Linked DNA regions of Homo sapiens: region 2 is linked to region 1. The links come from fine-mapping of genetic effects on gene expression. A gene starts in region 1. The other region holds a variant in brackets. All regions are shown on one strand. Distances are from middle to middle.

Evidence for each region. PIP is the estimated chance that this variant, and not a neighbour inherited with it, causes the effect. A credible set is the group of variants that fine-mapping cannot tell apart.
Region 2: its variant is the best candidate, but not a certain one, in a credible set for the expression of XPOT in whole blood (INTERVAL, PIP 0.81).

What each region holds. Positions count from the first base shown.
Region 1 is chr12:64,402,250-64,406,782 of GRCh38, forward strand. XPOT (exportin for tRNA) reads left to right here and starts at 2,143. Exons shown (of 25, transcript NM_007235.6): 1 at 2,143-2,555. RefSeq lists enhancers at 1,718-1,767, 2,865-3,741 and silencers at 2,158-2,317, 2,648-2,757.
Region 2 is chr12:64,480,646-64,484,645 of GRCh38, forward strand. It overlaps TBK1 (TANK binding kinase 1), which reads left to right. Exons shown (of 21, transcript NM_013254.4): 8 at 1,197-1,376; 9 at 3,658-3,854. Among named protein-coding and RNA genes, the nearest start is that of TBK1, 31 kb to the left of the region's middle. The variant C/T (reference allele first, on the strand shown) is at 1,617.

The DNA of each region.
Region 1 (4,533 bases):
GTTTTGACGTAAGGGCAGAATTTACAGTATGTGCTCTCACACAACTTGAAATCTTAAAGGCCTTCCGGGAACAGGGTTAATCAGAAACCAACATGGCAGATTAGTACCAAAGATGGAGTTACTTTAGCTTCCAGATTCCACCCATCAATCCAGCTCTTACAGTTTCACTCGCCCTCCTATTTGGAGATGGTCCCTGAGCTTTTAGGGAGGGTGGTTTCATATGATATAGCTTTAGCAGCAGCGCCCTAGCAGTGGAAAACAGATTGGGCCCAGAGAGATTCCAAATGAGGGAGATTCACAGGCTTTGTTGAATTATCTCTAGTCTTGAGAATACCATGACTTTGGTTTTCTCAGAAGTAAAACAAGAGATACTTCTTGTTTATAATTAATTTGAATAATTAATAATTTGAATAGTAGAAACATAATGCATGCAAGGATTACAATCAAAAGAAAATTTGTATGCCAGAACAACAAAGAACCTATTTCGTTGGGAAGCCAACTGAGAGCAGCGTGAAGAAAATTAAGGCCTGACACAGGGACTCACACTCGTAATTCCAACACTTTGGGAAGCTGAGGTGGGAGGTTCATTTGAGCCTGGGAGTTAGAGATCAGCCTGGGCAACAGAGCAAGTCCCCATCTCTACAAAAACAAACAAAAATAGCCAGGTATGATGGTATGCACCCGTAGTCCCAGCTCCTTGGGCGGCTGAGGCAGGAGGATTGCTTGAGCCCAGGAGGTCAAGGCTGCAGTGAGCTATGACCACTCTACTCCAGACTGGGTAACAGAGCGAGACCCTTTCTCTAAAAACAAGAAAAAATTAAAACCCAGTTCTCCTTTAGCGACATCTTGTAGCCACTAGCCTGACATTTTAAACACATAAATTAGAAACATGATGCAAGAGTGATTCAAGGTATTTTATATAGGAAATGCCTGGTGTAGTGTCTTGGACAGCTAAATAAAGGTAGCTGTTAAAACATTAGTTTTATTCTATGCTCTTACCATTCCTCCCTCTCCAAGTTTTGTTTGTAGTCTGTGGCAGCAACCTAGTCTGTATTTAGTACACATTGAATAATCAACAATGAAATGTAAATATTGAGCACATTGTGTGTCAAACACATGTATTAACTCAAACCTCACAGAAACCCTTTGAGGTCGGTACTATTAACAATCCCCATTTTACATACGAGTAAACTGAAGCATGGATAGACTAAAGTAAAGTGCCTGAGGTCAACTAGTGAGGAGGCGGAGTGGCAGTCAAGTCGAGGCAGCCTAAGCCTACACTGCCTCTATGTTGCATTAATAAATTAATAAATCTGTGACCAAATAAATGAAGTGACATTTAGTAGCATCGAAAGATCCCGTGAGTAGGACTTCCTAAGAATGCTCTCCTTCTTTTCATGGACAAAATTTTAGTCTGTTTAAAATAAATTTTGGACCGGACACCGTGGCTCACGCCTGTAATCCCAGTACTTTGGGAGGCCGAGGCAGGTGATCACTTGAGGTCAGGAGTTCGAGATCAGCCTGTCCAACATGGTGCAACCCTGTCTCTACGAAAAATACAAAAATTAGCTGGGTATGGTGGCGCGCGCCTGTCATCCCAGCTACTCAGGAGGCTGATGCAGGAGAACTGCTTGAACCCCGGAGGCGGAGGTTGCAGTGAGCCAAGATCTCGCCATTGCACCCCATCCTGGGCGACAGAGCGAGACTCCGTCTCAAAGAATAAATAAATAAATTAATTAATTAATTTTGAAAACCTGTCAGCACTCATCAGAGCTTTACACTGCTGTACTCGGGACACTTGGGGCCGTAGACAAGCAATTAAATTGACTCACACGTGGTTAGAACCACGTCATCCTGATTCGTGAATCCGTACTCTCAACTACTAGAAGCCCTTTGTGGAATGCTCGGGGCGAACCTGACGCTTGAGCTCTGACACCACGCAGACACAGCCGGGGATTTAGGAGCTGGGTAGGGACTCCTGGGCCGGATGCCTCATCCCGGCATGCACCTCAAGCCCCGGTGACCACGCCTTCCGGCGAGCGCCAGGGAGCGCGTGTGCGCCTCGCCGCCCGGAAGCGCCGGCCGCTCCCTGCATGCTGGGAGTTGTAGGCCTCCGGCGTCAGCCCGCGGGCTGCCGCCCGCACTCTCCAAGAGACTGCTGGCGCCGGCGCCCGCCCGCGCGGCACCGACGCGGGGAGCGCGCTTCGCGCTGACTCAGCGGCGGCGGCGGCTGCGGCGGCGGCGGCGGCGTTAGCCGGCCCTCGCGCTCTTTCCCTTCCTGGGGCGCCGACCCCGCCCGCTTGCTTGCTTGCTTGCTTGCCTGCCTGCCTGCCTGCCCGGCGCCACGCAAGAGAAGGTGCCAGGGGACGCAGAGCGACTAGAGGCGCGCGGTCCCGGCCAGCACCGTCTCTGGCGTTGTAGCTGCGGCCGTGGCGGAGGACTACGGCGACAAGGACGAGGGCCGCTCTCCCAGCTCTCTGCGTGCCGCGCCGCTCCGCTCCGCTGGCTGACCATCTGGAGTGCAGGCTGGGAGGCGGGATGGAGTGATAGGGAAGGTGACTCGGGGCTCGGGGGCAGCGGGACCGGGACCAGGTTTGGTCCGCGTGAGGCTTCGAGGAAGTTGGCCGGGGCGGACCGGCCCGGGGGAGTCCCGACGCCAGGGAGGGTGCAGGCTTGGGACCCTCTATGGCGGTGCACCCCCTGGCTGGGCGGACCGGGTGGGGGTGGGTACGAGCCGGGGCCGCCGCCGAGGAGCGCGTCCCGAGTGCGTGGCCGGCGGTTGCTTGGTGTTTCATCACCCGAATTGCCACGAGGCTTCCTTTAGGGGAGGGATCGGGGGAGGGATGGGAGCAAGGCTAGCAGAGGAGGGTCGGCATCGCCTGTGGTTCCGAAGCCCGTTAGTCATCGTTGTAGCGTTATCAACTGTGGAGACCTCAAACTTGATTCTTCCCCCACCCCTGGACAAAAAGGAAAAGTGTTATTTCTGTGCAGTAATTGGCCAGCACGGACGCTCCATTTCTTCTCAAACCTTCCTCACCATCCTGCAGGACTAGAGAAGCATGAGGTTTCCCTGTAACCAGAAAAACGAGTACTTTTTGAAAGTGCTAATTAGTTGTGGCGGGCGGGGGTTGGGGGAGAGTTACGTTTTATTAAACCGACTTGTCAGCGTGGTGTTAAAAGGCTGGAAAGATTCAGTCGTAGTATTTGAAACAGTCTTCAGTAGGTGTAGAGGAATTTTTCCAAATTGTTTGATTCTTAATGGCTATCCAGGAAAAGTTAAGGCTTAATATTTTAAGTATGTTGCTTGCCTTCCCCCAAGAACCTTTGCAAGATGCATAATTGTTTACCGTATTGAAACATTTTTTGGGGTTTTGTTGTTGTTGTTTTGAGACGGAGTCTCGCTCGGTCGCCCAGGCTGCAGTGCAGTGGTGCCATCTCGGCTCACTGCAACCTCTGCCTCCCAGGTTCAAGTGATTCTGCAGCCTCAGCCTCCCGAGTAGCTCTATTACAGGTGCGCCCCGCCACACCTGGCTACTTTTTGTATTTTTCGTAGAGATGGAGTTTCACCGTGTTAGCCAGGATGGTCTCGATCTCTTGACCTCGCGATCCGCCCGCCTCAGCCTCCCAAAGTGCTGGGATTACAGGCGTGAGCCACCGCGCCCGGCCTTCCACTGCATATTGATCGTCCAAATGCCTTCTATGTGGGGGATTCTTTCTGTAGTGACAACTGTTAACTAGTTTGTTTCCTTGGGTTTATTGGCTATGTTTTCCTTAGGGCCACTTCATTTTTCTCCCGATAGCTTCAGAGTGACTTGACCAAGCTTAAGCACTTTTTCTTTTTTTTGACACAGTGTCTCACTCTGTCGCCCAGGCGGGAGTGCAATGACACGATCTCCGCTCACTGCAACCTCCCCCTCCCGGGTTCATGCGAGTCTTCTGCCTCAGCCTCCTGGGTAGCTGGGATTACAGGCGCAGGCCACCATGCCCAGCTAATTTTTGTATTTTTAGTAGAGACGGCGTTTCACCGTGTTGGTCAGGCTGGTCTCGAACTCCTGACCTCGTGATCCGCCCACCTCGGCCTCCCAAAATGCTGGGATTACAGGCGTGAGCCACCGTGCCCAGCCAGCAATTTTTTTTAGATGGAGTTTCGCTCTCGTTGACCAGGCTGGAGTGCGGTGGCGCCATCTCAGCTCACTGCAACCTCCGCCTCCCGGGTTCAAGCGATTCTCCTGCCTCAGCCTCCCGAATAGCTGGGATTGCAGGCATGTGCCACCACACCCGGCTAATTTTTGTATTTTTAGTAGAGACGGGGTTTCTCCATGTTGGTCAGGCTGGTCTCGAACTCCCGACCTCAGTTGATCTGCGCCCCCCTCCCCTCGGCCTTCCTTAGTGCTGGGATTATAGGCGTGAGCCACCCTGCCTGGCCAGCATTTTTTTAAAAAGCCATAGCAAATTCAAGGAAGCTTTTATTGGACTTCTCAATCAGGGATTCTTAGAAACTCCGAAATCGTTTTTTCTCTCTGTGGGCATTTT
Region 2 (4,000 bases), 78 kb after region 1:
TTATATTGTCATTTAAGAATCCTGTTACCACAAAGAAAGAATTAAGGTAAAAGAAATTAAAAGTAGAAAGTAAATTATTTTGTATTTCACTCTGGAAACAAAGCCAAGACATGCATCGGTATTTAGTATCTGTGATTACTGAATTAGCTTCCATTTTTCTTGAGTGTGGTAGTTATATAATCCTTAATTGGACACAAGTTATGAATTAGTGGCTTATCACCTTTTTTAAGTTGTGGGTGCTTTTTGTATGACTTTAAATAAATAAATATATAAAACAAGCTAATAAAATATCACTTATCATTTTATATGTTGGGTTCTGTGAAAATTCATTTAAACCAAGAGTTCCAATGCTGAAATCATTTTCAAAAACCACTATTGTTAACAGTTTTTTGTGTGTGTTATTTTAAAAAGTTTCCAAAATGAAATCGTCATGTAACTAGATTACTAAGAGAAATTCATTGTGTTGGAGAGTAGAAATTTAATATTATAACTGTGATTTGTGTTAAATTTTTATTTAGGAAATACTCATTTTGGGGATCTCAGGCAAAACTGATAAAGTGTAAAGGGCTCAGAAAATGAACACTTGCTGGTAAATAATTATATTGCCAAAACTCAGAATCAAAAAAATCTGATGATCTGAACTGCAGCATATTTCTGGAGGGTAACAGGCATTATCTATCGAATCAGTCTTTAGCATACCAAGTTACAAATTCTTTGAGAAAAATTGCTTAGATGCCAGAAAGTATATTATATAATTTTTTTGTTTTAAATAGTAAGAACTCTAAGTACTACAAATCAGCCGTGAAAACAACTACCAGAAATGTAATGGGTCTTGGCACGGTGGCATACACCTATAATCCCACCTGCTCAGGAAGCTGAGACAGGATACTTGAGCCCCAGAGTTTGAGACTGCAATGCATAAAGCATCTGTGAATAGCTGCTGCACTTCAGCCTGGGCAACATAACAAGACCCCATTTCTAGAAGAAAAAAAGCTATAATTCCTTATTCATTGATGAGTGGCATTAAATGAAGGTTACCTAGCTTTCTGAAAAGTTGACAGATTTTAAATTTTTTAAATTAATCTAATATAGTAATAATGACAGTTCCTTTGATTTGCTGGTAAATACTATGATTTTTTAACCTAGACAGAATATGATATATTCACTCTTCAAGTAACTTTTCAATACTATTTTAGGGGTCTTCAGGTTCTACTTACCCCTGTTCTTGCAAACATCCTTGAAGCAGATCAGGAAAAGTGTTGGGGTTTTGACCAGTTTTTTGCAGAAACTAGTGATATACTTCACCGAATGGTAATTCATGTTTTTTCGCTACAACAAATGACAGCTCATAAGATTTATATTCATAGCTATAATACGTAAGTATCTCTATTTTCTTCTTGTATCAACATGTTCTGTTATATAATATTTTCCTAAGTTAGGAAAAGAAATAGAAAAGATGCCTCAGCTTCACCAAAAGTACCCATTTCCCACATGGAAAATTATATTTAAGTGCTTAGTAAATTCCTTTTCACTTATTTTTGGAGTAAAAGGATTGATAATTCTAAAATTTATAGTTAAATTAGCTTGTTTCTTAAACTGTAAGTTTTACAAAAGTA[C/T]TTTCATTGCTGTGCCTTCTTTCAAGTTACATAATCACATAACCACAAATGGCATCTACCAATAAACCAGCCAGGTTTTGCTAAGTGTACTATCCTGCCATGTTAAAATATCAAAGCCTAAGTCTTCATTGTTAGCATGGTTATTTGCCTATGATAACCCTATGCAGATAATATGGTTACTATTAACCATAATAATGGTTAAAGCACCTGGCTCCGGAAAAATAATCAGTGTTTGTTTTATGTAAACAAAAACACATTACACCCATGTGATTAAAAAAAACTACCCATGTGATAAAACTGCATATAAAGTTTTGGTCAATGATGGACCATATATACAACACTGGTTCCGTAAGATTATAATATCATATTTTTACTGTACCTTTTCTATGTTTAGACATGTTCAGATATACAAATACTGTTTCTAATTATGTTACAGCTGCCTGCAGTATTAAGTACAGTAGCATGCTGTACAGGTTCGTAGCCTAGGAGCAGTAGGCTAGCTACCCTATATAGCCTAGGTGTGTAGAAGGCTATACCATGTAGTTTTCTGTAAATATACTCTGTGATGTTCACACAATGATGCAGTTTTTAGAACTATTCCCATCATTAAGCAATGCATGACTGTACACATACATATACTTGCATGTAAAACTGGGGAAATTTGAGTAAGTTGGGTGTATCAATGTTAATAGCTGGTTGTGATGCTTTGCTATATGCAGGATGCCACCATTGGGGGAAGCTGGGAGAAGAATATATGGTGTCTCTCTTCATCATTTCTTAGAACTGCATGTGAATCTACAGTGATGTCAATGTTTTGTAAAAAGCTCACCCAGTGTGATTATCGTTAATAATAACTTAATTGTACATTTTAAAATAGCTAAAAAAATATAATTTGATTTTCTGTAACACAAAAGATAAATGCTTGACTGGATGGATACCCCATTCTCCATGGTGTGATTATTATGTATTGCATGTCTGTAACAAAACATCTCATGTACCTCATAAATATATTCATTTCCTATGTACACACAAAAATTAAAAACAAAAAATTTTCAAAAGGTGACACAGTGGAGGCTTGTAGAGCCAAATTACAATATTGCTGCTGAAACATTTCTTTTGATGTCATTGATCTATTCATGGGGAAGCTGTCTTTTCCCCCGAAGCATCATTTTGAAAATACCTAGTTTTATTAATGTATTTAACAAACATATAGTCACATAACAAGTGCTGTTCTTGGTTCTTTACATATTTAAGCCATTTAATCCTCACAACAATTCTGTGAAGTGGGTACTGTTATTATTTCCATTTTACTGATGAGGAAACAGTGCAGAGGAGTTAAGTCACTTACGGTTTTATAGGAAGTTAGTGGAAGAGCTGAGATTTGAACCCATGTATCTGATTCAAGTCAGTGCTCTAAACCGCTCTGCTATGTTGGTTCTCTATTTGAAAATATTAATAATCTTGGCCAGGCACAGTGGCTCACACCTGTAATCCCAGCACTTTGGGAGGCCGAGGCAGGTGTATCACTTGAGGCCAGGAGTTCGAAACCAGCCTGGCCAGCATGGCGTAACCCTGTCTCTATTAAAAATACAAAAATCAGCTGGGTGTGGTGGTGCATGTTTGTAATCCCAGCTACTCAGGAGGCTGAGGCACGAGAATCGCTTGAATCCAGGAGGCGGAGGCTGCAGTGAGTCAAGATCGTGCCACTGCACTCCATCCTGGGCAACAGAGCGAAACTCTGTCTCACATACACACACACACACACACACACACACACACACACACACAGAGGAAAGAAAATATTAAGAATCCTGTATATTACACAGGTATCCAAACATAAAAATACTTTAGAATTGCTTACTGTATGGACAGGTTATATGGAATGGAGTTTGTAGTATCCACATTAACAAAGCAAGTTTATATGGACTGGTTATGATATTAGGGATATGAATTAGAAATGGATGTTGTTGCACTCATTTAAAATATTTTGCCTCTCACTTTATCCCCAGTTATAGTGTCCTTTTGAATTTTTCTCACACAGTGCTACTATATTTCATGAACTGGTATATAAACAAACCAAAATTATTTCTTCAAATCAAGAACTTATCTACGAAGGGCGACGCTTAGTCTTAGAACCTGGAAGGCTGGCACAACATTTCCCTAAAACTACTGAGGAAAACCCTATATTTGTAGTAAGCCGGGAACCTCTGAATACCATAGGATTAATATATGAAAAAAGTAAGTTGGGATTTTTCTTGTCGTTCTTACTAGCCATTAGAAAAATACAGCCAGCCTGGGCAACATAGTGAGACCTTGTCTCTACAAAAAAATAAAACAAAAATTAGTGGGGCATGGTGGCTTGCACCTGTAGTCCCAGCTGCATG